3 separate regions of the Homo sapiens genome follow, and all the other regions are linked to region 1. The links come from fine-mapping of genetic effects on gene expression. A gene starts in region 1. Each other region holds a variant in brackets. All regions are shown on one strand. Distances are from middle to middle. Region 1 holds the start of GRM2 (glutamate metabotropic receptor 2). Region 2 overlaps RAD54L2 (RAD54 like 2). Region 3 overlaps RAD54L2 (RAD54 like 2).

Region 1 (10,982 bases):
GCCTGTGCTGGGCACTTGGCAAGCGGGAATCTGGGTGAGAGGTAGGACCCAGTCAGAGATGGGAGGATCGCAGCTGGGCACAGCCCTGGGAGCAGCAGAGGGGTGTCAGCAGGGCCAGCAGCCTCTGCTGAAGCTGAGCCACAGAGCACCCTCTGCTGGTCCCTGTGGGAGAGTAGGAGGCTGAGGGCAGGGGAGCTGCCTCCCCACCCTTCCCACCCCCTCAAATCCTGTGCCCCCTGAAGACTCTCTGGTGCCCTCCCCCGACACATATTCTGTTTATCTTCCTTCTGACTCCCCTACCCTGATTCTCTCCTCTGGCCACTCCTGGCTTCTATCTGGCCACCCCTCTCCAATCCAGGCAGAGATGATCTGACAAGTCAGGAGCCCCTTGGCCGAGAGCCGATTTCACAGTTCCCCTCCACCACTGCCTTGAATGTGGCCCACCTCTCTCTGAGCCTTCGTTTCCTCATCTATAAAATGGGTTAAAAATAATAGCAGCTAATATCAACGGTGCCCTTATGACTTGCCGGGCCCCTGATACATACTATGCATCTATCAACTCATTAAATTTCCATGGCAAACCTCAAAGTAGAAAGTGTTGTGGGCCGGGCACAGTGGCTCATGCCTATAATCCCAGCACTTTGGGAGGCCGAGGCGGGTGGATCACCTGAAGTCGGGAGTTTGAGACCAGCCTGACCAACGTGGTGAGGTCAGGCTCGTCTCTACTAAAAATACAAAAATTAGCCGGGCATGGTGGCAGGCGCCTGTAATCCCAGCTACTTGGGAGGCTGAGGCAGGAGAATCACTTAAACCCGGGAGGCAGAGATTGCAGTGGGCTGAGATCTCACCACTGCACTCCAGCCTGGGAGACAGAGCGATATCCTGTCTCAAAAAAGAAAAAAAAAAAAAGTGTTGTGAATCCAATTTTATAAGGAAGAAGCTGTGACACAGAAAAGAGAAATAACGTGCCATGGTCATGCAGTTAGTAAGTGGGAGACCTGACTATTAAGCCCCTCAGGGTTAACATCAAGGGTGAGGGTGTGTGTGTGTGTGAGGGTGTGTGTGTCTGGGTGTGTGTGTGGGTGTGGGGGTGGGTGTGGGGTGTGTGTGGGTGTGTGGGGTGCGTGTGTGTGGGTGTGTTGGGTGTGTGTGGGTGTGTCGGGTGTGTGTGGGTGTGTGGGGGGCTGTGTGTGTGTGTGAGGGTGTGTGGGGTGTGTGTGTGTGTGTGAGGGTGTGTGTGTGTGTGGGAGTAATGAGAGTAAGATGTTCTCTTGCACAGTCTCTAAAAATCGACCACCATTATGTGACCAGGGCACTTTCTTAGCTTCTGTAAAAGCTACTGCAAGGAAGCTTCTAGTTTCCCTTCCAATTCACAGCAGCCCATGAGCCCCTTTTCAGCAGGAATTCTGGGTCACCACCTCCGGCCTCCCTCCCTAGCCCCCATTTGGGTGGCTTCCACGTACCTGGATGGAGACATCACTGTAGGAACCGCCAATAACACCAGTGATGGCAGTGGGAGCATCACCATGGGTCGCATAAGAGCCGTCGGGGCAGATGTGGCGTGAGCCATCAGCACCACGGCTGAGTGAGGCACGCACAAAGTCCAGTGCCTGCTCCAGCGCATGTGTGTCCTTGGAGCAACTGTCGAGGATGTGTGCACCCAGGCGCACGCCAGGCAGCAGGTGCGGGTCACGGTTGATGCGGTCCAGTGCAAAAAGCATGGCCTCCAGGCGCTGGATGCCACGGTGCTCATTGACAGGACCACAGTCCTCTGCTGGGCCGCCCTTCTGGTGCACTGGGAACAGCCCACCCAGCACCAAGTCTCCCTCCAGGGTCAGCACCTTCTTGGCTGGGCCCTCAGCCACAGCACCCCACAGCAGCAGCAGTGCCAGGAGCGCAAGCAGCGATCCCATGGCCCCAAAGGGGATGGATGGGTCCCGCAGACCTGGGTCTCCAGGGGATGAGATTAGAAGCAGCGAAGGCAAAGAGAGGAGGAAACAGGGACCAGGAAAGGACAGACAAGAAGAGAGATGCGAAGGGACCCAGCTCCTGCAGAGAGATAGAAAGACAGAAAAACAGACCAGGAAAAGTGGAACCTGAGAGCAGCTGCCCCTTCTGACTCTGCCTCCCCACGAGCCCCTTTCCTAGGTACTCAAAAGCCAGGGAGGGACAGGATGGTGTCATTAAGTAGGTTGAGAAGCTCCTGGGACTCCCCTGGACCTGTCTCTCAGCCCTGGCCTCAGCTTGGTGAGAGATGGGCCATATTCCCCTACCAAACTCAGCAGTGGGGAGAGATGCAAGCAGTGAAGTCCCAGGCAGAGGACAGGAGACCCCAGCCAATGCTGACCCCTCTGTAATTCAAAGGGTGTCCAAGAACAGCACAAACCTCCCAGGACCCCGAGGTCAATACCTTTGGAACAGACTATGTCACAGTCACAAACTCAGAGGTCCCCATCCTGAGCCTTGGATTTCCAGAGAGAAGGAACTGCTGTCTCAGGACCCACCAGGGAAGAGGAAGGGAAGCATCTCTAAGGGACAGTCTCCAACCCGTGGGGAGACTGGAGCCCATGTGAACACCCAAGGGTTCTAACCTTTGGTTCTTAAAAAGCCATCCCCACAGTTTGCTGACTGAGGAAGGAATAGAGACACTAAGCCCTGGGAATGAGACAGCAAGGTGGAATGGCTGGCCTCAGGGAGGGTACCCAAGTGGCTCAAGGTCCTAAGTCAACAGGGCAAGCAGATGTTCACGTATGTGTGTGTCAGGGTTGGGGGCTAGAGTCTCCAAACAGTGCTGAGGGTGAGAGTGCGGGACTCTCTAGCTCTGTGTAGAACACTGCTTGAGATTTTGTGCCTCTGTTTTCTCTTCACTCCCGACCCAGCAGAGAAAGTCACCATTTCCAATCTCCCCATCCTCAGCTTCAGGGCCCTGCCCACCCTAGCCATGGCCCTCAGAGACCCCCTCCCTGTCTCTTCCCCACTGCGTCCAATCATTTGTACCCCAGTTGCCTTCCCAAACACACACCCCACAAAGGCTCTCACAATCACACAGGCTTGGAAAGGCTGGGAGAGGGACATACCTCTTTCCTCAGAACAGGAAAGGAAACTGAGTTTGAAGAAGGGCAGCAACTAACTCAAGGACCCCATGTGCTGGCCACGGAGGCTGAGCCTCTTCATTTTGCCCCCTCAGCTCCCCAGGGCAGGGGCACTGGGCTCCTCTGGGGATCAGGAAAGCAGCAGCTTACCCAGGCAAGCGAGGGAGAAGCAGGGAGGAAGACCAGCACAGATGGAGACAGGGACCCAGATGGGGGCTGAAGCCAAAACTGGTCAAGTCGCAAGTCTCCCAGAGGGGAGGCCCAGACGGAAGCTCAGAGGCAGGAAGGGGACAGAAACCCGGAGTCAGACAGCCAGGAGCCTGGGCCACAAAATCTGGGCAGGGAGCGAGCAAGCCTGAGAGGTTGAGACAAAGACGGAGGCACAGACAGAAAGAAGGACCAGAGGACGCTGGAGCAGGAGGAACGGGGGAGTGCGATGTGGGGCGTGCGTTTTCTGGAGAAGAAAGGCGGGACGCCCGGGGCTGTCTTCCCGCTTCCCGGAGCTCTCAGGGAACGCTGTCTGGACACAGCAGCGCGGGCGCCCCACAACTTGAGGGCCCGCAGGACCCTGGGACGTGAGGTAAGGGCCAAAAAGGTCGGCAGCGGCAGCGGCACCACCACCACCGGCTCACCCTACCTGGCGCGCTGGCTCTGGCGCGGAGAGAATCGGAGTGGAGCGGGGGGCGCGAGGCTCCGGCTCCCGCTCGCTCGCTCGCTGGCTCGCTGGCTCTGCGCTCTCCGCCCGCCCGCTCGCCCCGCCGCTTTCAATCGCGGCCCGCCCCGCCCCGCCCCCGGCCCCGGCCCGCCCCCAGCCCCTCCTCCGTTCCTCCAGACGCCAGGTCTCCTGCTCCCAACCCAGCCTCCGCCTCCTCTGGACACTCCGCGCTCCAGCTTTTCTGGGGACCTCAGGGCCTGGAGCTGTCCGCCTCGTGGTGCTGAATCCCCGAGCGCTCTCGCTCTGCGCTGGAGCGGGTGCTTCGTGGCCCACTCCGCCCCATAGTCAGACTACCACCTAGAGAGCATAGGTGGGGGGCGGGGGGATGCCACGGGGCACGGGGTGGGGAAGGTCACTGCGCCCCGACAGGTGCCCATAGTGCTACTGCAGAGTGGAGGAGCTGGCCTTAGTGCAAGGGGTGCCTCTGGGGGATAGGTAAAGGGGCGCGTGGGAGACGGGTGGAGTCTATTCTCCCCACTCAGCGATTTCAGCTGGGTCCACATCCCAGGCCTGAGTTGGAGGCATGTGTCCTCTGCCACTTTTGAGACCTGGAGCCAGAGTCACTATGAGGAAAAGATTGGGGGAAGGGAGAGGTCAGAGGAGAATGGGGCCTCCCCTTCCTTCCTGCAGATGCCCTTTAAACCTGCCACCCACTCCCATGTAAAAAGGGTATTTAAGCAAGGAGAGAGCAACCTGCAGGAAGGGCTGCAGAACCAAGTACTAGGGTCAACCCTGAGGGAGTGTTAGGGATGGCAGGGGCATCTGGGAGGGGAGGGGCCTAGGGAAAGGCTTCTGGAACTGGCTGCTGCGTAGGAGGGAGTGAGAGCTGGAGCCCAAGCAGAGGGAGGACAGCTCTGAGAAGATTCTCTTGACTCTTCCCTCCCACAGCAGGATGGGGAAGGACGCCCCTGGGTAGAGGGTAGTGGATAAGCTGTAGTGCCAGACTGTGCTGAAGGAATGGGGATTAGAGAGCCTGTGCTATCTGCCCCTAACATGTGCACACACTAACAAGTGCCAAGGGGCATGGCATCCCTACACACATTCCCGACACTGCCCTTTCTTCCACAGGTGTCAGTGGAAGCAAGGCCAGCTCAGATACATGCTAATGAACATGCCAAGCCCAGACCCCTCAGGCACACACACCCACATGTGCGTGTGGCAGTCCGTAGGGGTGCGGGGGTGATCACCAAGGACGAGCTTTTTCCCTGGACACAGAAACCTGATGTCCTGCTGCTGTGGAAAGAATACAGCTTTGAAACGAAACAGACACATAAAACCCAAACAAACACAAGCCCCATCACTAACAGGAGACAAGGTGGCAGTGGGAGACAGACATGCTGTCTTCCACCTCCAACTCTGCCACCGGCTGCTCTCACCCTCTCTGGCTGCCTCAGAGCAACAGCTCCCTGGGGTAGGTGAGCAATGGGCCAGGCCTCTGGAGCAGAGGGGTTGACAGCAGGAGGGTGCTGAGGTGAGGAGTCACACACTCCTTCTAGCCACACTCCCAACCTGCTCAACAAGTCAGCCTCACAAAAGGCACAGGGCTGTAAACACAGATATGGCTGTGTACAGCATCAGCCAGAAAAGCCCATGATGTGGCCTGCAGCAAACAAGCTGCACAGTCGCAGCACATGGACACACAGTTACACACAGCTAGGCAGCCACCACTCCCAGCTGTGTGCACACGGATGAGGACATACACTTAGCCTTACACAGTTGTAAATGTGGACATGGCCACATGCATAGTACACATAAACATGCAACCACACACAGCTATACTTGTAGACAGCCATAATACACATGGGCACACCCCTGCCCCTAAGAACATGTGACCATGTCTACACACGGCTGCACATGTGGACACAGCCACATATATACAGCTGCTCACACAAGGACATGCCACAAATAGCTGTCCACCAAGACATGTCCACACATACATGGCCATAATTATGGATATACGGCTGCAGGACACATAGCAAATGTGTGTTTTTATATGTGGACACATAGCAAAACACATAGCTTTATACATGAACGTCATGAACATCACCATACACACAGTTGTACAGACACAGCCACACACAGTTGTACATGAACAAAGCCCCCATAGAGATGCTGTTAGCCAGCCTCACATGCTCCTATAATACAACCATACACAGACACAAAGCACAGCAATACACACACACACACACACACACACACACACTCACACAGGCACACAGCCATCCACACAGACTCAGCCATGCTCAGGTACAATCATACCCTGATGCTCACCTGGGCACAGCTTTACCCAAGCAGCCCCATCCATCCGTGGTTACACAGAGCCAAATGCATGAGCGTGGGTGCACATGCACACACACAGGTACACAGCCACTGGCAGGCACAGTGGGGGAGCCTCGCCTACTGGGGAAGTACCAGCGTGCAGGCACACTAGTCACAGACACAAAGGCATCCCTTGGAGGCAGATGAAGACAGGCTGTGAGCTCCCCATTCCTGAGCCCTGAAGGGCACCCCATACTCAGCTCTCACCCAAGCCAGGCTCTGCTTGCTCTCTGGCAGCTGCAATGGAGGGGCAGCTGGCCACTGGGGTCACAGAGCAGGACGTGGAGGATCTCTAACTCCCCTCCTCCCCCAACCCCAGGGTACCTGCCATGTTCCTTCCATTCTTTGTCCTGGGGAGGGGAGGCTCCTTCCCACTCCCAGCCTATCTGTACAGCCATCCCCCCACCGCCCCCAACCAAGGCAGAACAAACAAATACACAACCCAAATCCAGGTGAAACAAGTAAATCATTGGCTTTATTCTGGGTCCTGGAAGCTCCACTGTGAGTCTGAAAAAAAGACACAACAGGGGTGGCAGCCCTGGGGGCTGGTGCAGAAAATAGTCCCTGGCTCCTCTGGCCCTGGGAGCCTAAAGGGCAGTGAGGAGAAGGCTTAGCAAGAGGCCTGGAGCAGGGGAAGTCAGGTCCCTCAGGAACCCCTCCTCCCCCAGAGGAAGGAGGAAGAGGGCTGGAGAGTCTGCTGGAGAGTCTGCTCAGTTCCTCAGCAACTGCACTGCAGGAGGGTGCAGGCCATGGGTTACTCCTTGCCCTTCTCAGGGGCAGTGGGCTCCCAGAGCCACTTGGTAGTCCCCAGGGGCTCAGTCCCAGGGTCCAGCCGTGACTCCCCTAAGGGCCCCTCGCCCTCCAAGTCCAGCTCCTCAAAAGAGGAGCCGCTGGCACCTGACTCGCTGTAGCTGTGCTCGCTGCGGGTGTCACCGTCATCCCAGCCACGGCTGCTCGCCCCAGGTGACAGTGTGGCAGCTGAAGTCTCCCGGCTGCCAGGGCTCACTTCCAAGCTTACAGAACTCGTGTCACTCATTGTGTCAGCTCCTATGACCAGGAAAAGGGAGCACAGGTTAGCTAGGACCACCCCACCCCCTCCTCCAGGGAGAGGCAACTCAGCACGCAGTGCACTCATGAATAATGCAGCCTCCCGGGCTCAGGGGGCTTGCTCCAGCTGCCCTCTGCCCTCTACCCTGACTGGGGCTGCACAGACAGGGCAGAGGGAAAGAGCTGGGAGGAAGGGAGGGAGGGAAGGAGGGAGGGAGGGAGAGAGGGTGGGAGGAGGCAGCTGTGCACTCTTCTCCCCACTCTAAATTAGCCTCAGCTCCCTGCACTTCCACAAAGCCTGCTGCCCTCCCCCCACATTTATTAAGGGCCACTCAGCCCTGAGGTGAGGAGCTGAGGTAGAACAAAGAGACACAAGTAGTGTCCTCTCCACCTTCCCCCACCCCCACTTCAAGCTTGGAAAGAGATGTGTCCAGGGCCAGCTACAGAACATCACCCACAGGGCACGAGGACTGCAGAATGCAGCAGGAGGCCCCTCTGCAGCCCTCCCCCGTGCAGGGCTCCCAGGAGCAGCATCCAGGGAGTCAGCAGGCCCCTGCCTCTGGTACACACCAAGTCCCAGTTGAGGAGGGAGCTGAAGTACGAGGAGGATGGAGAAGGCCTGAGAAATACTCAACCAGCTGCAAGGAGGAGGGTGCTGGGATGAAACATGTTAAGGGTTTTCTCTCCCTATGCCTGGGTCGACCCTGAGAAACCCTTACCCACCCCACCCCCAATGACTGGTGCTTCCTGAGCCACAAGATAGCAAAAGGGGATGATGAGAGCACTCTGCTGGTGGTTGGGGTGCCCCAAACCAGTGCTGAGCCAGGTTGATGGCCCAAACTCCTTCTAACCTGCTCCTTCCACCCCCAATACATCCTCCAAGCAAGCAGCCCCTTCATCTGCCCTGTCCAGGAGCAACCCCTGGGTTCATCTCCCTGGATCAGAGGCACTGAATGCAGGCTGGGGTGGCAAGGAGGAACACATGGCTCAGGCTCGCTGTGTGCAGGAATCCAGACTGGGAGAAAGTGGATCTGCTACCCTTCCTGTATGATGGGGAGAGGGTCAGCTGTCAAACATCACAGAAGGTGAGGGGTTAGCCAGCTTCCCCAGCCACTGTCTCCATGGTGTTGGAGCCAAGCCAGGTGCAGCTGGGGTCTGCTTGGCGCCTGGACTCAGCCTGGGGCTTTCCTTGAGCCTCAAATGGGGCCTAGGTTGGGGGTGGGAGAATTAGGAGAGGGGGGAATTTGGGGTCTCTCCCTACCCCCACCACCCACTCAGCCCCCAGAATATGCCCTCTGGGCGCTACTGGCAGAGGTGAGGTGAGCCCTAGAAGCCCAGGCTGCTGGCCCAGGGCCCTCCTCTTGCTGAGGCCCCAGGTGTGGCTCCCAGGACAGAAGCCTGTGAATGAGGTGGTCAGGGAGCTGGGGGAGCTTTAAGTTTTGGGTAGTTTCTTCTGACCAGGGGACAGGATGCCAGGCCCTCACTGCTCCTTAAATAATGATCAGTGCCCCAGGGACCGCAGGCCTGAAAAGAGCAAAGGAGGGAGACAGTTTCTCCCTGGCCCTATTAAACTGTATGTTCTGTCTGCCCACCCACCCAATGGCTCTCTTGGGACCCCAGGTATAGGAATGTGCCTGCTTCCCAGCATGCTACCTCCTACCACCCAGCTCCTAGGCTAGGAATGTTCAGAGGAAGGAGCCTAGGGGTGCCTCCTTCAGGCCAGGACAGCCTGCTGAAATGAAGACAGCCCCTGGAGACATATATACACTTCAAGCAAAGGAATTCAGCTGGAGGCCAGGCACGGTGGCTCACGCCTGTAATCCCAGCACTTTGGGAAGCTGAGGCAGGTGGATCACATGAGGTCAGGAGTTCCAGACCAGCCTGGCCAACATGGCAAAACCCCATCTCTACTAAAAATACAAAAATTAGCCGGGCATGGTGGCAGGCACCTGTAATCCCAGCTACTCAGGAAGCTGAGGCAGGAGAATCGCTTGAACCCACGAGGTGGAGGTTGCAGTGAGCCAAGATCATGCCATTTCACTCCAGCCTGGGCAAAAAAGGAAAACTGTCTTTAAAAACAAACAAACAAAAAAAAGGAATCCAGCTGGGCATGGTGGCTCATCCCTAGAATCCCAACACTTTGGGAGGCTGAGGCAGGATCACTTGAGCTAACAAGTTCAAGGCCAGCCTGGGCAATATGGCGAAACACCATCTCTATAAAAAATACAAAAACTAGCCAAGCATGGTGGTACACGCCTCTTGTCACAGCTACTCAGGAGGCTGAGGTGGGAGGACAGCTTAAGCCTGGGAGGGAAAGGTTACAGTGAGCCGAGATCTTGCCACTGCACCACTCCAGCCTGGGCGATAGAGCCAGACCTTGCCGCAGAAGAAAAAAAAAAAAGGAATGCAATACGGGGAAGTAGCATCCCTATACCCCCACCAAGATCTACACAGGAGGAGGTCCCAGAGTCCCATGCCTGCATCCCTGGGCAGAAGATACCAGGCAAGGCAGGGCCCTACCTAAATCCCCACGACTACTGGGGCAGGGGACTTGAAGCCCACCCCCTTCACCCAAATCCCTCCCTCTCGCTCTGCCCACAGCCAGTGCAAGACGATCAAATATTCATCGCCTCTCTGAAGCTAAATAATACATCAATGTAATAACAGGCACAAGGCAGCTAATCACCCCCTTTCACCTCCCGGCCTAAGCTAGGGCCACAGCAGGGAGGCGGGCAGGGACAGGCCAAGCCTTGGGCAGTCAGACATCCTGCATGCACCCACCACCAACTGCTGTGTCAGTGGCATGCACCTGGTGGGCAAACACCGAGTCCCGCTGGGGTGTCAGGACAGGCCCTGTGAGAGGTGGGCAGACCCCTTGGCCCCAACACCAGGGAGTGGGTGGGCGGGCTGGAGGGGAGGAAAACAGGCTGAGGAGCTGGGGAATGTGGGAGCTGCCACTACAGCCAGCTGTAGTGGGTGCCAAGCAGTCCTTCAATGACCCTGACAGGCAGTGTTTGGGAGGGAAGGAAGCTGGGTGGGTGGGTCAAGGAGGGGGAGGCAGGCAGCAGAGGGAGGTCACAGTAAAGTGAAGGCACTCTGTCTTCCTGCCCTGGAGGCTGCCTGGGCCTGCTGACCTTGTGCCATGTCCTGTGCCCACAGTAGGGGCACTGAAGAGTGTCTGCCGGGCACTACCAGGCAGAAGGGAGCTGTACCCCATGGAGGTAATTAAGTGGCAGATGAAGTTAACTGTGTTGGACACAGGCCCCTAGGGAGTAGAGACTGCTCCCAATACCCTCCTACCCAGCCCTAGCTGACACGTCTCCCTAGGGTGACCTTGGCTGTTGAAGACTGGATGGGCAGAGCATCTGCTAAAGAAGGAGGAGAGGAGGGACAGTTCCTCTCCCCACAGCCCTGTACCACTCCTAGAAGTCACAAACTCCACCAGGTTGGCCAAGGATAAGGCCCCCTGGGACCATCTGGGATGTAACCCAGCAGACCCCCTTGTGCCTGAGACAGCCCGGGGTCACAGATCATTGCAGAGGGGTGGGCAGGCAAGCAGCCTTCCAGCCTGGACCTGGGGCCTTGAGGCTGCCAGCAGGAGTGTGGGCTGGCCCTGGAGAAAGGCACAGGTGACTGATCTCCTGGCTCCCCTCTGCATGCTCCCTGGTTGTTCCCTGGCAGGGAGAAAGCAGCTGGCTCTGGGTGGGGCCCGTACTGAGGGACAAGAGAACACTTTGCTCCCCTCCTTACCTTCCAGATCTATGCCAATCTTACTTCCTGCTGAGCCCCACCCAAGGGACTCCTTTCCT
Region 2 (10,982 bases), 140 kb after region 1:
GGGGAACAAATAAAAAGATAAGAGATAATGCCTTGGGCTCAAAAAAGCTAAAAAGGAGTAACTATGACCTCTACCTAAAGCCAGGACCTTAAGGAGTTACAATCTCATGAAAGAGTAAACTACAAAAAAATCTGCCAGCCAATACAGAAGACAACATAAAAGCTGCATCAACCTAGGTTGGAGGATGGAGACAAAATGGGAGCCTGTAATCATCAGTCAGCCCTCAAATCAGTTTGAGGTTTAAATATATACTTACCTACACTGTCCAAGAAATTAACCAAAACTAAAGTGGTCCTAGGCAAATGATACATCTTAGGTGCCTAGAAGCAAACGCAAAATAGCTCAGGCACATATCTCAACCCAGGCCATGTGAGATTCCCACAGATAAAGCCTTACTCACAAACTGAATGTACAAACGCACGAGGAACTAATCAAACAGAAGAAAGAGCCAACAGGGTCAACAGACATAACTATCTCTAAAAATGCAGAAAAGATGGTGGTGCATGCCTATAGTCACAGCTATTCAGGAAAGCTTCAGCCTGGGAGTTCGAGGCTGCAGTGAGCTGTGATGGCACCACTACACTCCATCCTGGGTGACAGACTGAGACTCTGTCATTAAAAAAAAAAAAAAAAAAAAAAAAAAAAAACGCAGAAAAGGCTGTGATAAAATTCAGAACCTATTCATGATTACAAAAGCAAACAAACTCTTAGCAAACTTGAAGAAAACTTTCACTGGATAAAGGGAGTCTACTAGAAACAAGCCCCACACAGTATGACTGGGAGTGTACCCTTTAAATTCAGAACAAGATAAGGTTGCATGCTGTCAGTCAGTGTTTCTCTCAACATCAAACTGGAGTCTACAATAAGTAAGACGAAAAAAAGGCAAAGGGACTGGAACAAAGAAAGAAAACTGTAAAGAGTCAAGGATTACATTATTTCAACATAGCAAATCTATAGTCAAACTACTAGACATAAAGGGAGCTCAGTGCTGGGCGCAGTGGCTCACGCCTATAATCCCAGCACTTTGGGAGGCCGAGGCGGGCATATCACGAGGTCAGGAGATCGAGACTATCCTGGCTAACATGGTGAAACCCCATCTCTACTAAAAATACAAAAAATTAGCCAGACATGGTGGCGGGCGCCTGTAGTCCCAGCTACTTGGGAGGCTGAGGCAGGAGAATGGGAGGAACCCGGGAGGCAGAGCTTGCAGTGAGCTGAGATCGCGCCACAGCACTCCAGCCTGGGTGACAGAGCAAGACTCCGTCTCAAAAAAAAAAGGGGGGGGTGGGGGAGCTCAGTAAGGTGGCTACATGAAAGATCAATAAAGAAAAATCTATTTTAGTCTGAACACAGTGGCTCACGCCTGTAATCCCAGCACTTTGGCAGGCCGAGACGGGCGGATCACCTGAGGTCAGGAGTTCAAGACCAGCCTGGCCAACACGGTGAAACCCCATCACTACTAAAAATACAAAAATTAGCCTGGCATGGTGGCACGCACCTGTAATCCTAGCTACTCAGGAAGCTGAGGCAGAAATGCTTGAACTGGGGAGGCAGAGGCTGCAATAAGCTGAGACGGCACCACTGCACTCCAGTGTGGGTGACAGAGTAAGACGCCATCTCAAAAAATACATAAATAAAAATCTATTATATTTCTATGTAGTCACTACCTACAAGTATATAAACACACACACACACATATATATTTTTTAAGACAAGGTCTCATTTTGTCACCCAGGCAGCTGGAGTACAGTGGTGAGATCTCGGCTCACTGCAGCCTGCAGCCTCTACCTCCCAGGCTCAAGCGATTCTTCCATCTCAGCACCCCCACACGCCAACCCAGTAGCTAAGACTACAGGCATGTGCCACCACACCAAGCTAACTTTTTTTCACTTTTTGTAGCAACAGGGTCTATGTGGCCCAGGCTGGAAAGTGTAATTTTTTTAAAATCTTATTTACAATCGCTACAATAACTATATGGTATGTTCCTGACATTCTAGCAACTCATGCAGGCTTCCCCAAGCACCTGAGGACTAGCAATTAGACTGAGTAGTGAGTAGTGCACAGGAGTGAAAAGGCCTCTTTGTTCTAATCTCAGGTCTAGACACTGACTTCAGGAGTGTGATGAACAAAATGGGAAGAAATAAGGCTTCCCTCATTTGAACTTACAGAAAAGAATCAAACATATGATCTTCAAATGAAAAGCTGTTTCTTAACAGCATCCTAACATATAAATAACATGCACTACATGCTCCTGCAAAGCTGTGACTGCTCTCTCTTAACTTTTTCCCCTATTATATTTGAGCCAGTTTCTTTCTTTTTTTAATTTTAAAAATTTAATAAACAGAAAATTAAAAAAATAAACAGAGATGTGGTTTCACCATCTGGCCCAAGCTGGTCTTGAACTCCTGGGCTCAAGCCATCCACCCACCTCAGCCTCCCAAAGTGCTGGGATTACAGGTGTGAGCCACTGCACCTGGCCTGAGCCAGTGTCTTCAACAGGCTATATAGTTAAGCCAAGAAGCCAATGTCTAAGTTTTGCTGAATCCTAGTAATACTGATTTGCCTTATTTAGAAGGCTAAAGGAAAGGGCAGACCCCAAGAGCTCCCCTTATACCTCCTCCTATCCAGTCTCTCCATTCCTAACACCTGACTCTATGTTTACATGTAGATAACAAACCTCCTATCTTCAGTTACAGGACTCCAAATTTAATGTATTCTGTGGCCCAGAGTGAAGCATTCCCTGTTTTCCTGCATAAGGCAGAGACATATTGCTTCACTGCAATTTAAGAGAAGAATAGAAAAGAAACCTCCTATCTTCAGTTACATCTAATGGAGGACTCCAAATCTAATGTATTCTGTGGCCCAAAGTGAAGCACTCCCTGTTTTCCTGTGTAAGGCAGAGACATACTGCTTCATCGCAATTTAAGAGAAGAATAGAAAAGAAGCCTGGCCTGAGATTTCCTAAGGCTTTACCAGGCACTGGGAGCAGCCTCAAACCCTTGAGAAGGGTTTGTATCTATACAAGCCATTAACATCAGGATTAAAATACTATAGCCAGCAGACTCAAAACCCTGAAAAGCCCATTGATACCTAAATCAATTATTTAATTTTGCTTTCCAAAAGTTGTCCCCCTCTGGGCTGCCTTCTAAACTTGACAGGAAGTGGCATGTTTTAAAAAAGATTTACAAATAACCACAGGACATTTAAGGAATTATTTAAGAGAAACCTCAGTGAAAGAAAAGGGATCATCTTGATCTGTGGAGAACAAGCTGATAGTCTACCACCTAATAACTAATCCTCCCACACCTGGGCCTTTTCCAGTGTCAGTGAGAGTCAACACTTTCATTATCTGCAGGCTTAACAATTAGTTAAAACTCACTAAATATATTACCAAATGCTTAAACACAGAAAAAAATAAATAAAAAATAAACCCTTCTCAGCAAAATGATAAAGCAAATGCTACGGTATTATTACTTTCTAACTACTGACCCTGATGATCTTTGATGAACACACCGGGGAGGGAACCGTGGCAAAAACCAGGAGGTCCTTCTACTAAAATGCACATTCTATGCACCCTGACATAAAGAGGCTCTCAGGGCTTGGATCAGGCTGTTCTATGAAGCTTCAGAGAAAAAGTAGATGGGATGGATGAGAACCAATACTTGGAAAGCACCACATGAAATGAAAGCCATTAAAATAAGGAACAGTCTCCTAGGGTACTAGTCCAAAAATGAATATTAAATAGTAATAGAAGTTTAAAAAGGAGGAAGAAGATGGTTCTACAAAGATAGTTCTAATACAGCCAGGTGCCAAAATCTAAACATGCTCTTGTTAATACGTTTACATCCTTCAGGTCAGAAACTGACCCTTACCTACTCAGGTTTTTTAAATTTACAAAACAGCTTACCAATGTGGAAGCTTTGGTGGTCTCTGGAATGTCTAATTCTAGAGAGTCACATCTCCAAAAATTCTGTTCAGCTCAACAAAGACTTATTAAAAAACTACTCTCTACTGGAGACACAAAGATACACACGACAGGTCAGGAAAGGCAAAAAAACACTAAGAGTGAGGCTCAAAGAGAGTTTTGAAGAAAGAATTGGACAGTTAGGTAATGTCCAGGGAATGGGGTAGGCAGAGGTATTGCCTGGGAATGACTTCAAAGATAAGAAATTTCTGGCCAGACTCGGTGGCTCATGCCTATAATCCAGCATTTTGGGAAGCTGAGGTGGGAGAATGGCTTGAGTCCAAGAGTTTGAGATCAGCCTGGGCAACAAAGTGAGACCTCATCTCTACAAAATATCAAGCTGGGTGTGGTGGCTTACACCTGTAATCCCAGAACTTTGGGAAGCCAAGGCAGAAGGATCGCTGAGCACAGACTTTGAGACCAGCCTAGGCAACATAGGGAGACCCCATCTCTACAAAACAAACAAACAAAAAAATTAGCTGGCCAGGCATGGTGGCTCATGCCTGTAATCCCAGCACTCTGGGAGGCCAAGGCGGGTGACCTCCTCACCTGAGGTCAGGAGTTCAAGACCAGCCTGGCCAACATGGTGAAACCCTGTCTGTACTAAAAATACAAAAAATGGCAGGGCACAGTGGCTCACGCCTATAATCCCAGCACTTTCAGAGGCCCAGGCGGGCAGATCACCTGAGGTCCAGAGTTCAAAACCAGCCTGGCCAACATGTTTATTTAGTCTCTACTAAATATACAAAAATTAGCCAGACATGGTGGTGGGTGCCTGTAATCCCAGCTACTTGGGAGGCTGAGGCGGGAGAATTGCTTGAACCCAGGAGGTGGAGGTGGCAGTGAGCCGAGATCACGCCACTGCACTCCAGCCTGGGCAACAAGAGCAAGACTCCATCTCAAAAAAAAATAAAATTTAAAAAATTTAAAGAATAAAAATACAAAAATTAGCTGGGTGTGGTGGCTCA[T/C]ACCTGTAGTCCCAGCTACTTGGGAGGCTGAGGCACGATAATCGCTTGAACCCAGGAGGCAGAGGTTGCAGTGAGCCAATATCACACCACTGCACTCCAGCCTGGGCGACAGAGTGAGACTCGGTCTCAGGGGGAAAAAAAAAAAATTAACTGGGCAGGGTGCCACACACCTATAGTCCCAGTTACTTGGGAGGCTGAGGTGGGGGGATTGCTTGGGCCCAGGAAGTCAAAGTTGCAGTGAGCCACAATTGCGCCACTGCACTCCAGCCTAGGCAACAAAGTGAGACCTTGTCTCAACAATAAATAAATAATAAAAAAAATCAGCCAAGCCAGGCGTGATGACCCACACCTGTAATTCCAGCACTTTGGGAGGCTGAGGCAGAAGGACTGCTTAAGCATAGGAATTCAAGACCAGTCTGGGCAACATAGGGAACAAAAAATAAAATAAAATAATTAGCCAGGAATGGTGGCATGCTCCTGTGGTCCCAACTCCTCAGGAGGCTGAGGTGGGAGGATTGCTTGAGCCTGGGAGGTTGAGGCTGCAGTGAGCCGTGATTGCAACACTGCACTCCAGGGTGGGCAAAAGAGTGAGACTCTGTTTCAAAAAAAAAAAAAGAAAAAGATAAAAGGGAATTTCGGCCGGGCGTGGTGGCTCACGCCTATAATCCCAGCACTTTGGGAGGCAGAGGCGGGCAGATCACCTGAGGTCAGGAGTTCAAGAGCAGCCTGGCCACCATGGTGAAACCCGTCTCTACTAAAAATACAAAAATTAGCCGGGCATGGCGGCACATGCCTGTTATCCCAGCTACTTGGGAGGCTGAGGCAGGAGAATCACTTGAACCCAGGAGGTGGAGGTTGCAATGAACCGAGATCACATTTCTGCACTCCAGCCTGGGTAACAGAGCAACTCTGTCTCACCTAAAAAAAGATAGGGAATTTCATGAACAATGATTCAGAGACAAGAAAGCAGAATGTTTTCAAGGAAATCCAAGCAGTCTGTATTACTAAAGCATAAAGTAGGAAGTATGGGAGAAGAGTAGAAAATGAGCCTGGAGAAGTAACAGGGCCAAGAACATAGGGCAACCTGGAGACCTGCTAAGGAGATAGGATTTTAGCCTCCAAGCAAGAGCAGAATGGTATAAGCAGATCCGTCTTTTATAAAGGTCACTCTGTGGCATAGAATGTTAATGCTTAAAAGAACAGTTTCAAACTGAAAACAAGTACCAGCTCATTTTGCTACATGAGCTTCAGCAAGCTACTTAAATTCTTTGGACCACAGTTTGTTTCCTCACTTGTAAAATGAAGATATTCCCTACCTTCAAATTTTCTTAAGAGGATCAAGTGGTGAAGGAATATAAATTCTACAATAAAGATACCTGGCTCAGTATTTAGCACATTGTATTCAAAACATGGCCTAGAAAAAAAATTTGCTGGAAGAAATGTGGAAGGCGGAATAAAAGGGGATTGAAAATAGAAGGCCAGTTAAAAAGCCAGAGGAAAGGCCAGATTTGAAAACTATTTGGGGGGCCAGGCACGGTGGCTCACACCTGTAATCCCAGCACTTTGGGAGGCAGAGGCAGGTGGATCATGAGGTCAGGAGATCGCAGCCTGGCTAACACAGTGAAACCCTGTCTCTACTAAAAAATATAAAAAATTAGCCAGGCGTGGTGGTGGGCACCTGTAGTCCTAGCTACTACAGGAGGCTGAGGAAGGAGAATGGCGTGATCCCAGGAGGCGGAGCTTGTAGTGAGCAGAGACTGCACCACTGCACTCCAGCCTAGGTGACAGAGCGAGACTCCATCTCAAAAAAAAAAAAAAAGAAAAAAAAGAAAATGATTTGGAAGGTAAAATAAATTATGCTAGTAAAGTATTGCTCTTCAAACCTCAATAAAAGAGTAAAAGACACATGAGGTTTCTTTTCCAGGTTTCCCTAACCAGGGCCTAGAGTGCTATTGTGACCTCCTCCTCAAACACAAGCCCAGGTTGAAAACCAGATGCCACACATATTTCAGCTTTTACTATCAACACTGCTGAAGAGGCCATAGGTATATCATGGGGTGGGAGCTCTTTGGTGTCAGATACCTGGTTTAACAGCACCACTTAACTGGAGCAAATCACTTAGTTTCTCATCTGTACAACTGGCATAATGGCATCCACAGCTCTGTGCTGTGAGGATTCACACAGCATACAACATGGCAATCAGTCAACAGCAGCACATCACAAACAAATCCTACATAGATGTGAAACATACAAAACAGTATCTCTTACAAAAATACTACATAGCCTTATCATATCTGTAGCCCATTTGGAAGCTCCTGTAGCTGAAACTGCCCAGTACTTATCAGTACGTTGGCTCTCATACAGACAACCGGTGTTCCACTTGGAGCAAGATTGTTTTTATTTTCAATATGGGTATAACATCTTCCACCATAATATGTACTATCTGGTTCCTAAACAAATAAAACTGGTTTCAGAGAGCTCATCTCTAGAACAGCAGCTGGGATACAGTTTTACCCAAAAGTTAAGTAAAAATTTGGCGCCAAGCCCAGAAAACATGCATTCCTCACAGACAAAACTGGATAAACCAAATCTACAATGAGTGGATAAAACAGTAGGGAAGGGAAGAGCTCTGAGGAAGCTAGAATAACCCAGATGCAAAGACCCATCCATAATCAAGTGGAATCAAGTGAGGCAGTGGGATGAATCAGTTTGGATCTGAAGCACTCAGGGGAGGCACCGAGTTACCAAGTGTAAGACACCAAACTTACTAAATTTAAGATATCTGGGACATAAATATTCTCCATGTTATTTATGTAACATGAAAGATTTATGCAAGCACAAAAAGCCAAATGTTCTACCCTCATTAAGATTCAAGATTCCTTATAAGAGGTTAGGAAGCTGGAGAGTATAACCTGGGGAGAATATCAGTGGAGATAAAATTTAGACACATTAAATGTGAAAGAGTAACCCTTTCCATTTCAGTGGGCTATTGTCGGCCAGGCGCAGTGGTTCACGCCATTAATACACGCCTGTAATCCCAGCACTTTGGGAGGCCGAGGATGGTGGATCATCTGAGGTCAGGAGTTTGAGACCAGCCTGGGCAACATGGTGAAACCCCCTCTCTACTAAAAATACAAAAAATTTGCCAGGTGTGGTGGTATACGCCTGTAATCCCAGCTACTAGGGAGGTTAAGGCAGTAGAATTGCTTAAACGTGGGAGGCAGAGAATGCAGTAAGCCAAGATCATGCCACTGCACTCCAGCCTGGGCAAGAGTGAGACTCCGTCTCAAAAATAAATAGGCTATTTGTTGATGCTGCTACTATTACACAGTTGATTTCTATTAAGGAATGTATTGACTATATACTTCACAAGGCATTCTTTGCTATTCCACTTATGGGACAGTAAGAGAAGTGCCAGCATGGTGCCTCATGCTTGTAATCCCAGCACTTTGGGAGGCAGAGATGGGAGGATTGCTTGAGCCCAGGAGTTCAAGACCAGCCTGGGTAACATAGCAAGACCCCCATCTCTACAATAATTAAAGAATTAGCCAGGCATAGTGGTACATGTCTGTGGTCCCAGCTACTTGGGAGGCTAAGGTGGGCGGAATCACTTGCACCCAGGCAGTTGAGGCTGCAGTGAACCATAATCACGCCACTGCACTCTAGCCTGAGCAACACAGCAAGCAAGACCCTGTCTCAAAAAAGAGAGAGAGAGAGAGAGAAGTGGACCTTCAAAGGAGAAAGGCTTGCCAAAGTCCCTTTGAAATGAAATTGATATTTAAGATGCTGCTATGGCACATGATTTTGACTAGAAAAAAAATAGTCTTCCTCTAAACATCTAAGAAATTTTTTAAACATTTAATCTAAGAAAAATTTTAAAACATTTAAAACAGGAGCCAACTGACAGATAAGGGCAGGTCACACGTCTCTGGTGGAGAAATTTGGGCTGAGAGCATGGATTCGGTCAATCAGTAAATTCTACTTTGCCCTAAACAGAGCCTTACAAGCCAGACTTGATAAGATTCATAAACAAATCGGCCAGGGGCGGTGGCTCACACCTGTAATCCCAGCCCTTTGGGAAGCTGAGGTGGGCAGATTGGTTGAGCTTATAAATTTGAGACCAGCCTGGGCAACACGGTAAAACCCTCTCTCTACAAAATATACAAAAATTAGCTGGGCATGATGGCACACACCTGTGGTTTCATCTACTCCTGGGGCTGAGGTGAGAGGATCACTTGAGCCTTGGGAGGTGAAGGTTGCAATGAGCAGAGATTGTGCCACTGCAACAGAGCGAGACCTTGTCTCAAAAAAATAAAATAGAATGTTCTTTTTTTTTTTTTTTTTTTTTTTTGAGATGGAGTTTCCCTCTTGTTACCCAGGCTGAAGTGCAGTGGCGCAATCTCGGCTCACTGCAACCTCCACTTTCTGGTTTCAAGCGATTCTCCTGCCTCAGCCTTCCAAGTAGCTAGCATTACAGGCGCCCGCCACCATGCCTGGCTAATTTTTGTATATTTAATAGAGACAGGGTTTCACCACGTTGATCAGGCTGGTCTCAAACTCCTGACCTCGTGATCCACCCACCTCAGCCTCCCAAAGTGTTGAGATTACAGGCGTGTAATTAATAAGAACATAAGAATGTTCTTATTAATTAAACACTCAGTGTCAATGTCTAGATCTAGCTTTAAAATATGCCAACAACAGCCTGGTGCAGTGGCTCACACCTCTAATCCCAGCACTTTGGGAGGCTGAGGCAGGAGGATAGCTTGAGCCCAAGAGTTTTGAGACCAGCCTGGGCAATGTGGTGAGACCCCATCTCTACATAAATTTAAAAATTAGCTGGGCATGGCAGTGTGCACTTGTAGTCTCAGCTACTCAGGAGGCTGAGGTTGGAGAATACTTTGAGCTGGGAAGTCGAGGCTACAGTGAGCCATGCCACTGCATGCCAGCCTGGGCAACAGAGTGAGACCCTGTCTCAAAAAAAAAAAAAAAAAAAAAAAAAAAGCCAACAACAACAAAAAATAGGGAATATATTGAAAAAGATGGAGAAGTATTGATAATTGTTGAAATTGGGTGACAGGTACATGATGCTTCATGATGCTATACTCTCCACAGTTGTACGTGTATGCCAAGCATGTGCAACATCCCTCCCAGCAAGGATGATGGGAAAGGGGGAGTTAGTCAGAACAAGGGAGAATAAACATCAGGAAAAGAATCTTTGGTCCAGGCAACTAGGAACTCACCTCAGAGATATTGCTCAGGAGGAATGCAGGACCAAGCCAGACAACAAAGGATTAAGAGATATATAGGGCCGGGTGCAGTGGCTCACGCCTGTAATCCCAGCACTTTGGGAGGCAGAGGCGGGCGGATCACCTTTGGTCAGGAGTTTGACAACAGCCTGACCAAAATGGAGAAACCCCGTCTATACTAAAAATACAAAATTAGCCGGGCATGGTGGCGCATGGCTGTAATCCCAGCTACTCTGGAGGCTGAGGCAGAAGAATCGCTTGAACCCGGGAGGCGGAGGTTGCAATGAGCCGAGATCATGCCACTGCACTCTAGCCTGGGCAACAAGAGCGAAACTCTGTCTCAAAAAAAAAGAGAGATAGATAAAAGAGAGATAAAGCATCTGGTTGGCACTGAGTGAGGTGGCCCACACCTGTAATCCCAGCACTATGGGTGGCCAAGGCAGGAGGATCACTTGAGGACAGGAGTTTGAGACCAGCCTGGGCAACACAGGGATACCCTGTCTCTACAAAATAAAAAGTAAAATCTAGCCAGCCATGGTGGCACCCGCCTAAGAGGATAGCATGGGCCAGGGAGGTTGAGGCCATAGGGAGCAGATTGCACCACTGCACTACAGCCTGGGTGAAAGAGCAAAACCCTGTCTCAAAAACAAAACAAAACAAAAAAAGGCAATTGGTAAGGAAATGGCAGTAAAACTTAATGAGAGGATGATAAAAAATAAACCAAAGGAGGACAGAAAGAAGAAGGCTAGGCTACCATGAGAGGCACAGAGCTAAGCAGTTACTGTGGTCCTATCGTTTATGTAG
Region 3 (5,000 bases), 87 kb after region 1:
TAAAAGTTAAAAAAAAAAAAAAAAAAAAAAAAGACCAGTAGGACCAGGCCCAGTGGATCACGCCTGTAATCCCAGCATTCTGGGAGGCTAAGGTGGGAGGATCACTTGACCCCAGGAGTTCAAGACCAGACTGGGCAACATAGAGAAACTGCCATCTCTACAAAAAAAAAAAAAAAAAAAATTAGCTGAGCATAGTGGTGCAGGCCTGTAGCAACCCTGGAGGCTGAGGTGGGAGAACCGCTTGAGCCCAGGAAGTTGAGGCTACAGGGAGCCAAGGTTATACCACTGCACCACACTCTAGTCTGGGCAACAGAGCAAGACCCTGTCTATTAAAACAAAAAAATGAAAAAAAAAGACTCAAAGTCTCACCATATTTCTCCTGATGTGATGCAACTGGATGCACACACTACAAGCTACGATGTCTGTGTGCCAAAAACTCTGCACCGGAGCCTGAACACACCTTAAGATCTCACTCTTAGTTTACAAAAATACAGAGGACAACAGCAGAATGCAGTCTCTACAATACATAATGCACAGAGATATGCATTGTTTAATCAAAATTCACTAGATATGCAAAGAAACAGGAAAATATGATCCATAGCCCAGAAAATTCAGTCAAGAGCAATGTAGATAGACTAAGCTGTTAGACTGCCAGCCAGGACCTTCCTAAATTGCTTACCTTCAGAAGCCAAGAGAAATAATATTGTTTAAAGCCACTAAGTTTCAGGGTGATTTATGACACACCAGTAGTAATTGAAATAGAAATTTGGTATATCGGTCCTGCCACACACAAAAAAATTAAACCATGACACTGTATTTGAGATAATGTGGTGAATGGAAAACTGGAAAGGCCATGAGGAGACCGGTAGTAAAAGCCTACAGGTCATCAAGGACATTGTTGGTAAAGTATAAAGGAAAATGTTATAGGAAACTGGAAAAAAAAAAAAAAGAGAGACACATTGCACTGTGTCAGAAACTTTAGCAACTCTGTCACCTGCAATAATATGAAAAACAGAGATTGAATCCAGAGCAGGCCTATGAGACCTTTTGTTACAGTCTCAAAAATATTTAAGATAGTGCCTAGACCAGGCGTGGTGGCTCACGCCTATAATCCCAGCACTTTGGGAGGCCAAGGCAGACGGATCACGAGGTCAGGAGTTCGAGACCGGCCTGACCAACATGGTGAAACCCCACCTCTACTAAAAATACAAAAAATTAGCCACGCGTGGTGGCGGGTGCCTATAATCCCAGCTACTCAGGAGGCTGAGGCAGGAGAATTGCTTGAACCCGGGAGGCAGAGGTTGCAGTGAGCTGAGATCACGCCACTGCACTCCAGCCTGGGCAACAGAGCAAGACTCTGTCTCAAACAAACAAACAAACAAACAAAAAAGATAGTGCCTCACAGACCTTTTCCAACAGACAAGAGGCCTCCTGAAGATCTTAAAGGCATACCTAGCAGACCTTCTCCATTAAACAGAGCTTAGAAAAATCTTAGAATATTATCCCACAGCAGCTTCAGCAATTTCCCACCCACATTCAAGGGAAAGAAATTAGAATCCACCTCTCAATTGGAGGAGTATCAAGGTCAACTCTAGAAAACCATGTGGGATAGAAGATATTGTTTTATTTATCTATGGAAAAAAGTCTGCCATATTCCACTCTCTGGCCACAGTAACTCACATTCTTGTCATATGCAAAATATACTTCCCTCTCTGAAGAACCCCCCCAAGTCATTACAGCGTCAGCTCAAAGTCCAAGATCTTATTGTCTAACTCAAATTGACATATGGATGTGGCTCTCCACTGTAGTTCCTTGGATACACTTCTTAAGTATAGTTTCTCTGTCCTTCTTTCTTTATTTTTTCAGACAGAGTCTTGCTCTGTCACCCAGTCGGGGGTACGGTGGCACAATCAATGCTCACTGCAGCCACCACCTCCAGGATTCAAGCAACCAATCCTCCCACCTCAGGCCCCTGAGTAGCTGGACCACAGACACACACCATCACATCTGGCTAATTTTGTAATAAAGATTTAATAAAGCAGGACACAAAAAGCTCAAATCACAAAGAAAAAAACTGGTAAAATGTACTTCATCAAAATTTAAAACCTCTGCTCCTCAAAAGACACCCACAGAAAAAGGAAAATCAAGTCACAATCTGGCCACAATCTGGTGCAGTGACTCACGCCTGTAATCCCAGCACTTCGGGAGGCCAAGGCAGGCAGATCACGAGGTCAGGAGAGCGAGACCATCCTGGCTACTAACATGGTGAAACCCTGTCTCCACTTAAAAAAAAAAAAAAAAAAAATACAAAATATTAGCCGGGCATGGTGGCACGTGCCTGTAGTCCCAGCTACTCCGGAGGATGAGGCAAGAGAATTGCTTGAACCCAGGAAGCGGAGGTTGTAATGAGGCGAGATAGCACCACTGCACTCCAGCCTG[A/G]GCGACAGAGTGAGACTCCGTCTCAAAAAAAAAAGACTTACATATCTAGAAACATGTATGTATTAAATATACATTATTTATTATATATTTAAAATGTGGTGTGTGTATTTATATTTTAGAGACAGAATTTTGCTCTGTCACGAGAGTTGAAGTGCTGTGGCACAATCATGGCTCACTCACTGCAGCCTGAAACTCCCAGGTTCAAGTGATCCTCCTGTCAAGTAGTTCTCCTGAGCAGCTGGGACTACAGGCAAGCACTACCACACCTGGCTAATTTTTAAATTTTTTGTAGAGACAGGGTCTCACTATGTTGCCCAGGCTGATCTTAAACTCCTAGCCTCAAGTAATCCTCCCGCCTCAGCCTCCCAAATCTCTGGGGTTACAGACATGAGTCACCATACCTGGCCTAGAATATATTTCTAAAACTCTTGCAATTCAGTAAGACTACACAGAATCCAATAAAAAGGGGCAAATGAGAAGAAACAGATACTTTACAAAAAGAGACATACAAATAGCCAATGAACATGTGAAAAGATGCTCAATATCATTAGAAAAATGCAAATTTAAAATATGAGATGACATTTGACACTCACTAGAATAACTAAAACTAATAACAAGTGCTAACGAAGATGTGGGGCACCTGGAACTCTCATACACTGCTGGCAGGAGTAAAGAGTGGTATAATCACTTTGGGAAACACTTTGGCAGTTTCTTATCAAGTTAAACACATCTATTATATAACCCAGTGATTCACTTCTTGGTATTTTATCTAAGAGAAACGAAAACATATCTATAATTTTGAAAAAAACAGCAAACCATCTCTAGATGAACGTTCAGAGCAGCTTTATTCATAAGAGTCAAGTGTCCATCAACAGATGAATGGATAAACAAGTTTTAGTACACTCATACAATTGGAATACTAAACAATAAAAAGGAACAAACTATGGACACGTGCAACAACACAGATGAATCTCACAGACATTATGCTGAGCAAAAGAGGCCATACACAAAAGAATATGTATTGTATAATTTCATTTACATCAAATTCTAGAATAGGCAAAGCTAATCTATAATGACAGAAATCAGTTCATTGGTTGCCTGGAAAATTAAAGCCCAAAAAGAGGAATTTCTGGGACCATGGATATTTTCTTTTCTTTTCTTTTCTTTTCTTTTGAGACAGAGTCTCACTCTGTCACTCAGGCTGGAATACAGTGGCATGATCCCCATTCACTGCAACCTCCGCCTCCTGGGTTCAAGCAATTTTCCTGCCTCAGCCTCCCAAGTGGCTGGGATTACAGGCGCCTACCACCAAGCCCAGCTAATTTTTCTATTTTTAGTAGAGACGGGGTTTCACCATGTTGGCCAGGCTGGTCTCAAACTCCTCACCTCAGGTGATCCATCCACCTCAGCCTCCCAAAGTGCTGGGATTACAGGCATGAGCCACCACGCCCAGCTGACAGTGGATATTTTCTTTACCTTGATTATTACCTGGATGTATACAACCAACAGTCATGTACATGTGAAATATGTGAGTTTTATTGTATTTAAATTACACATTAATGCTGACTTTTTAAAAAAAAACTTACGATATTGCTAAAGTTATGCTTAGAAGGAAATACATAGCCTTAAATGAACACGTTTAAAAAGAATGAAAGGTAAAAAATCAATGATATAAATTTTCTTCTCAAGAAATTAGAGATACCAGAAGTTGGAAGGGTAGGGAAGAGAGGATGAAGAGAGATTGATTAATGGGTATAAATATACAGTATAATAGAAGAAATAAGACCTAGTGTTTGATAGATCAGTAGGATGACTATACAATACTCTACTGTATTATTTCAAAATAGCTAGAAGGGAATAATTTAAATGTTTCTAGCATAAAGAAAAGATAAATATTGAAGGTTATGGATATCCCAATTATACTGAATTGATCTTGAAAAATATGAATGTATTAAATTATCACGTGTGCCCCCCAAATATGTATATTATGCATCAATTTTAAAAAACTTTTTTTGAAAAAGAAGAAATTAGAGAAAGAACTAGAAATTAAACCCCAGAAAAGTAGTAGGAAGAAAACAAAAAGCAGATTAATAAAACAGAGAAATGAAAAATAATGTTAAGAATAAAAACATTGTAATATTCTTTATAAACCAGACATAAGTTTAAAAAAAGAACAAAACCACAACCAAAACTTGATTGTTTTGAAAAGACAAGTACAAATGCTGCCTCCTCAGAAGACTCCTGACCACTCTAGCTGAAATAGGCCCTTCCTCCCCACTGCTGGGGCTCACTCCTTTATTGTCTACATGATTTTTACCAAGATCTTACCAATTTTAGTAATTTGATCAAACATTTGTCATCTGTCTTCCCTTCTAGAATGCAGCTCCTTGAGGGCAGGGATTATGTCCATCTCATTCACCATTGTATCATTATGCCTGACAAAAATGCCTGTCACATAACAGACATTCAATAATTAATTTTAAATGAGCTTAGTTTTAAAATTTTGCCGCTAGAGTAAAATATGTATGAATAAAAAATCCACTGAGGTATATCAGATCTTA

What was found. PIP is the estimated chance that this variant, and not a neighbour inherited with it, causes the effect.
Region 2: its variant is the best candidate, but not a certain one, in a credible set for the expression of GRM2 in whole blood (TOPMed, PIP 0.75).
Region 3: its variant is the best candidate, but not a certain one, in a credible set for the expression of GRM2 in subcutaneous fat (GTEx, PIP 0.50).

The regions. Positions count from the first base shown.
Region 1 is chr3:51,699,915-51,710,896 of GRCh38, reverse strand. It overlaps GRM2 (glutamate metabotropic receptor 2), which reads right to left and starts at 3,829. Exons shown (of 6, transcript NM_000839.5): 1 at 3,730-3,829; 2 at 1,464-2,049. The coding sequence starts at 1,913. It overlaps TEX264 (testis expressed 264, ER-phagy receptor), which reads right to left. Exons shown (of 5, transcript NM_015926.6): 5 at 6,574-7,173. The coding sequence ends at 6,881. RefSeq lists an enhancer at 6,089-6,957.
Region 2 is chr3:51,556,132-51,567,113 of GRCh38, reverse strand. All of the region lies in intron 2 of RAD54L2 (RAD54 like 2), which reads right to left. Among named protein-coding and RNA genes, the nearest start is that of RAD54L2, 23 kb to the right of the region's middle. The variant T/C (reference allele first, on the strand shown) is at 4,933.
Region 3 is chr3:51,615,440-51,620,439 of GRCh38, reverse strand. The region is part of intron 3 of RAD54L2 (RAD54 like 2); the gene reads right to left. Among named protein-coding and RNA genes, the nearest start is that of TEX264, 53 kb to the left of the region's middle. The variant A/G (reference allele first, on the strand shown) is at 2,440.